Homo sapiens: one gene and its partner. The protein of the gene in region 2 purifies or fractionates together with the protein of the main gene of each other region. This does not show direct contact. Each region holds a gene or a part of one and is shown on either strand. Other genes may lie near its edges.

Evidence for each region. The genes of interacting proteins can lie anywhere in the genome.
Region 1: the proteins of AADAT (region 2) and TXNRD2 fractionate together in Homo sapiens (co-fractionation; one large-scale study listed by BioGRID). This does not show direct contact.

Annotation. Positions count from the first base shown.
Region 1 is NC_000022.11:19,935,319-19,938,818, forward strand, and holds part of TXNRD2 (thioredoxin reductase 2, mitochondrial isoform 5 precursor), read right to left. Parts: intron 2,862-3,500; exon of another isoform or gene 2,509-2,861; coding exon of another isoform or gene 1,543-2,508; exon of another isoform or gene 521-1,542; intron 1-520. Other genes in the region: endogenous retrovirus group K member 24 Gag polyprotein-like, read left to right, coding at 1,543-2,508. UniProt on the Homo sapiens protein: Involved in the control of reactive oxygen species levels and the regulation of mitochondrial redox homeostasis. Maintains thioredoxin in a reduced state. May play a role in redox-regulated cell signaling.
Region 2 is NC_000004.12:170,062,840-170,065,956, reverse strand, and holds part of AADAT (kynurenine/alpha-aminoadipate aminotransferase, mitochondrial), read left to right. Parts: intron 1-1,131; coding exon 1,132-1,238; intron 1,239-3,027; exon of another isoform or gene 3,028-3,117. UniProt on the Homo sapiens protein: Transaminase with broad substrate specificity. Has transaminase activity towards aminoadipate, kynurenine, methionine and glutamate. Shows activity also towards tryptophan, aspartate and hydroxykynurenine.

The DNA of each region.
Region 1 (3,500 bases), on a different chromosome or scaffold from region 2:
CTCAGGCTTATTAGGGTGGGGAAAAAACTCCGTCCTGGTAAATTTGTGGTCAGACTGGTTCTCTGCTCTTAAACCATGTTTTCCGTTGTTTAAGATGTTTATCAAGACAATATGTGCACAGCTGAACATAGACCCTTATCAGGAGTTCTGATTTTGCCCTTGTCCTGTTTCCTCAGAAGCATGTGATCTTTGCTCTGCCTTTTGCCCTTTGAAGCATGTGATCTTTGTGACCTACTCCCTATTGGCACAACCCCTCCCCTTTTAAAATCCTTAATAAAAACTTGCTGGTTTTGCGGCTCAGGTGGGCATCATGGTCCTACCGATACGTGATGTCACCCCCAGCAGCCCAGCTGTAAAATTCCTCTTTGTACTCTTTCTCTTCATTTCTCAGCCGGCTGACACTTACAGAAAATAGAAAGAACGTACGTTGAAATATTAGGGGCAGGTTCCCCCAATATCTGGCGCCCAACGTGGTTTTCTTTTTCCTAAGTGCATGTGGGAACCCGATTCCCTTTGGTAGGTGCGGAGAAATGTTCATCGGTCCAGTCCACAGAAATGCTTGTTTGGCTCCCCAACGATTGGTGAGTTGTCTGTGTATTCTCCGGGGTAACTATGGGTCACGCAGAGTCTAAACATTATGCTTATCTCTGCTATATTAAATTCCTGTTAAAATGGGGGAGTTCGGGTTCCCATGGAAAATATGGTCACCCTATTCAGGGCAGTGGAAGAACACTGTCCTTGGTTTCCTGAAAAGGGAACGTTAGATGTGGAACTATGGGATCATGTTGGTGCAAAATTCCGAGAACTGGTCCCAACAGGAAATTATGTTCCTGTCACTGTTTGGGGTGATTGGGCCTTGGTACGTGCCATCCTAATGACATACCAATCCCGTGACACCCTGCAGTTACCACAGTTTTCTGAATCTGGCCACCCTCTACCTCTTCCTCAGCTTTCCTCTCCCACTCGGCCTTCATTATCTGCTCAGCCCCTCCCTTTGCCTACTCCTCCCCCACCTGACGATACTGAGGATTCAATATCTAACTCCAGTGACTTTGGCTTAACATCACCCCCTGATGATCTTATTTCTTTTCACGAAGAGCCGACACTTGTAGCTCCTGCGGCCCCAACTCAGACAGCCCAGGACCATATCTATGCTAACTCTTCCCTCTCCAAACCTTTACAGTCTTTGCCTCCGGAGCCATCCAAACTACAATTTACCTGTAATTCTGCAGGCCCTCCCCCATCCACCACAGCCCCTCACCCTCCTATCATTTTGGTCCCTCAACCGGTCACTTTGCCATCCACTCAACCTGCTTCTCTGTACCCTTCTTCATGCAGGGACACCCCTGCCACTCTGGTTGTGCAGGACTGGGCCAGTAATCACCAGTATGCTTCTGCCTCTTCTGCTCCCCCAATGCCCCTTTCTCACACTCTTATACCAGTCCGACCCCGTCAATCTCAGTTTCTCTTATCTATACATACTTTTCCTGTCACTTCTATGCCGACTCTATCTCATGTGCCTGCTCTTGAAACTTTCATGCAATGCTTATTACGCCAAAACAAACAAGTAGATTAGAGGCGTGGGCTTATTCGGTCATGCTGGAACCTCCTAATGCTCAAGGGGTACAAGTGTGTCGATATACGCCGCTCAATCTTACCTTTTTAAAAGAATTCAAGGATGCTTGTACTCAGTATGTTCCTACTTCTCCATATGTTAAAACGGTATTACAGACTCTTTGTACCGAGGTCATTTTGCTTCCTATAGACTGCGACCTTTTGGCAAAAGCTGTTCTAACTCCATCTCAGCATTTACAATTCCATACCTGGTGGTCAGAGGAGGCCCGCCTGCAGGCTCAGCTAAATCGGGCTGATGGCATTCCAATTACTCAGGCTCAGCTCACAGGCTCCGATAATTACTCTGATACTACTGCTCATTTAGGCTTTGATGCTCTCACCACGGAACAAGTAACAAAGGTGTGTATGAGAGCTTGGGATAAATTACGCACCCCAGGCCAAGCTTCTGTTTCTTTTACTATTGTTAAACAGGGTCACAATGAATTATATCTTGATTTTTTAGCTAAATTACAAGATGCTGTTGAAAAATCTGTCTCTGATGAGCACACTCAAGGTATTCTTCTTCATATGTTAGCTTTTCAAAATGCGAACCATGAGTGTAAAATGGCCGTGCATTCCATCCTACGTCAAAATTTACCTGATCATGAGGTGTTGCCTGCATATATTAAAGCTTGTGAAGGCGTTGGATCGGAGACCCACAGAGCTATTCTGTGGGCACCGGCCATGAAGCACGGCAACCAAACTGGCTCGACTGATTCTTTTCTTGGAGCCTGCTATAATTGTGGCCAACTTGGTCATACCCAAAAAAACTACACTGTTAAAAACTTAAAAGCGGCCAAGCCGGCTCAACAAACACGGCCAAATGCTCCTGCTACTGTTTGCCTGCGTTGTCGTAAGGGTAAACATTGGGCAAGTACTTGCCACTCAGTCTGATATAGATGAAAATCCCTTGCCACAGAACCAGGGAAACAGGAAGCAAGGCCAGTCCCAGGCCCCAATATCAAATGGGACACCTCGGACTCAGACCAATGTTGTGTTTTTGCGTCAAGCAGTCCCAACGCAGCCCCCAGCACAAACAAATTTACCTACAGCCAATCCAGATGGGTCCCAGCCTCTTCTTCTGTCTCAGTACAATGCTTGTCTACCTCCACAGTAGGCAGCAGGGCGGTCGATCTCTGTAGTACCATTCCTCTAAATTTACTACCTAATTCTTTGCCTTTAATTGTCCCCATGGGGGTCACTGGCCCTTTACCTCAAGGTTCGGTGGGCCTGGTGTTAGGCAGGGCATCCACCTCATGATACTAAAGGTATCATAGTTCATACTAGTCTCATTAATTCTGATTCCTCTGATGAGATTAAACTTATGTAAACTTATGGTGTCTGCCAAAGTTCCTGTTTCCATTCCGGCCAGTGAGTCAATTGCTCAATTACTTTTACTACCTAACATTGTTTTAAACAAAGGAGATAAGACATGGGGCCCTGGGATGGGCTCCAGCGGTGAAAAAGCCGCTTATTGGATTAATGTAATTTCTAAACAATGGCCTACCTGCACCATACACATTCAAGGAAAAAAGGTTGAGGGCCTAGTTGATACTGGGGCTGATGTTTCTATTATTTCCTCTAATTTATGGCCTTCCTCCTGGCTTAAACATCCCACTAACATGAAACTAGAAGGTGTTAGAAAAGCTGAAGAAGTTCACCAGAGCACATTTATCTTGGCTTGCACTGGCCCTGATGGTCAAAAGGGAACAATTCAGCCTTATATCATGCCCATCCCCATTAATCTTCGGGGCAGAGATTTGCTGGCACAAATTGGGGCTGAAATTAATATTCCACATAACTTTTACAGTGCTCCCAGTCAACATATAATGGAAAACATGGGGTTTGTTTCCAGACTCGGTCTCGGTCCAAAACGTGAAAAAATT
Region 2 (3,117 bases):
TAGATTCTTTTTTTATTATGAAGGTCAAATTAATCATATGGCTTTAATTATATTATTAAAATGCCTTTGATATAAATAATAGTAAACCAAAAATAGCAATTCCTTATTTCTGTCCTATCTTATTTTCTATAAAGTCTTGGTAAAAACAGAATTAGTGGCTGAGTGCAGTGGCTCATGCCTGTAATCCCAGCACTTTGGGAGGCCAAGGTGGGTGGATCACCTGAGGTCAGGAGTTCCAGACCAGCCTGGCCAACATGGTGAAACCCCATCTCTACTAAAAATATAAAAATTAGCTGGGCGTGATGGCGGGCACCTGTAATCTCAGCTACTTCGGAGGCTAAGGCAGGAGAATCACTTGAACCTGGAAGGCAGAGGTGGCAGTGAGCCAAGATCATGCCATTGCACTCCAGCCTGGGTGAGGCAAAACTCCATCCAAAAAAAAAAAAACAGAATTAGTATCTTTCTGACAATAGCATTATTTTACCACTTTGCATAATAGTACTGAAGAAAAACTTTGAATCAACAGCAAGTTCTTTTTTTAAAAAGATAGTAATTTAAATCAAAGATCATTATGCTTGTTTTTGATTTCTCTATCCTAATACTCAATGAAACGTAAAGCCCACAACTGCTTCTGGAATTCTTGAATTTTAAGTATTTCTTTTCATAATTAATTACATTCTGATAAAAACGCTAATCCACTGGACATCTAAACTATTACAAGAATACTAGGATTTGTTGTAATGCTGGAAGAATCCACAAATAATGGAAGAATCCTCTTCTAAATTGAAATAGCCATGTTTGTCTAGGTATGGTTCTAAGTGAAGGAGAGAGGAGTGGGATTTCTTGCACTACCCTAAGACTGACTACATTGTAAATACGCACACGCGAGCTATTCACTTGCCCACCCTACCCCTCCCTTCTTCCCTCACCCACAGTAACTCTTTGAAATAAAACCCAGAACATCAATTTTGAAGGCTCACAAAATGATATTTTTAAAAATGCTATAATTGAAGGAACTTTTTTAGGAATACTAGTTTCTACTTACTATACTTATGCCATTTAACAACACACTTTGATATCATCAAAAATGCCTTCCTTTGGAAGACATTTATTCTCTTCTTTTGTTTGTAGGTTTGGCAGAATGGCATGTTCCTGCTGCTGGAATGTTTTTATGGATTAAAGTTAAAGGCATTAATGATGTAAAAGAACTGATTGAAGAAAAGGCCGTTAAGATGGGGGTAAAACTGGGAGGTGAAGGGCTGGGAAACCTAAGGAAAAGTTATACTTTTTCTTTAATATTTTGCTTGAATAGAATGGAAAGAAATGTTTCTTGTTGCCCACCAGCCAACTCATAATGTTCTAATATTAGATATTTTATTGCATTATCAAAATCGTAAGAGGTTTTTGGGTTACGTAATTATCCAGCTGGTCTAAATTAGTGGAAATATAGTTGTTCATCTCAGCTACTGATTAGCGTAGTGGCTGAGGGTAGTCTCCGGAGCCACACCTGTTGGGTTTGAATCCCAGCACCACCCCTTAGGGGATGTGTGGCCTTGAATAGGTTACCCTTTCTGTGCTTTGTCTGTAAAACAGAGGTAATAAGAATCCCTCTCTCATAGGGTTGCTCTGATGATTAAGTGAGTTAATATATGTAAAGCCCTTAGACTAGTATGTGGCACATACTCAGTGCTCAGTAAGTATTAGCCACTAGTATTTAAAATGAAGGGTTTGTTTTCTGATGATGGAGATAAAGTATACTCGTGGTAGGATATTTGGAAAATGTATAAAAGCATAATGAAAATTTTTTAAATAGCCCATGATTTTACTACCCAGATTTTGTGACCATTTATAGTATAGTTCCTTGAAAAGCTTGTTCTTACAGTATTTTGGCTGTGCACTTATGTTACATAGTTAAAATTATACAGAAAAGTTTGTATCCTGATTTTTTTTTCACTTAAAATTAGCTCATAGAATGTATTCTAGGTTTCTTTTTTTTTTCCTCTTTTTATATTTAAATTATAAATCTACTTAGGTTTCATTGGAGGCATCAAGTAAGCTGAAAATTCTAAATATTTTTCTGTGTAGCTTTCCAGTTTACCAGATAAATTATTCCTTCTCCATTAATTAAAGCCATTTGCATGTTTGTCAGTCTTTTATACACACTGAAACCCTACTGCTAGATTCACTTTTGTCTTGAATCATAAGAACTAAAGGACAGATTGGATTGATGATGGCAAAGTGCCATGCTGGTGCATAAGAGACAAGGTGCTCTAGAAGTTAGAGCTAGAGACAGACTGCCTGGACTTCAGTCCTACCTCCACCACCTTGGGAAAGCTATTATCCTCTCTTAGCCATCTTACTTGAGGGCAGGACTCAGACTTCATTAATTGTTCTAACCCTAATCACAGCACATAGTAGGTACTTGATAAACAATTGACTTACTTCAAATAAATGCATTGTAGTATAATAAATCAATTTGATACATTCTTTTCTGTCAATGCCATTATCCTCAAAATATGTGGTAAGTGGTTATCTGTAGGTATGTCTAAGCGAGGCGCTAAGGATATAGACTTTGTTTTTACTCTACTCTTCTTCAGTCCTCTTCATTTATCCCATATATCCTGCTACATGTTCTTTTTTTACCTTTTCTAAATAATCTCCAGCTTTATCCCCACTTTGTCAGCCCAGATGTTGGTTATCTTGTGAAGAGATTACCACCACTCCCTTCTCTTTCAGCTCCTTGCTTCTAGTACATCCCAGAACTTTTCCATGCTACTGAGAGAAATGATGGTTTTCATTTTATTTTCAACCAGGACAGAGAAACCCATCTTCTGCCTTGAAATCTTTTGCCCAGAGTACTCCAAATCATATCACTCCCAACTCCTCTTGTCTTAGCAGACAGTGTAACAAGCAGTTACTCAATGCTGTTGAAGATCATGATTATACTAGTCAACCCTAACCACCACAGAAGATAAACTTGAAAATCTCAAAGACTTAATAAGCAATAGAAATTTATCTCTGACTCACATATAATTCTAAGATGTGACCTGCAACCCTCTGTGTTCCAACAGTGATTCAGAGACCCGGGTTTCTTACATCTCATTGCTTTTCATTCTT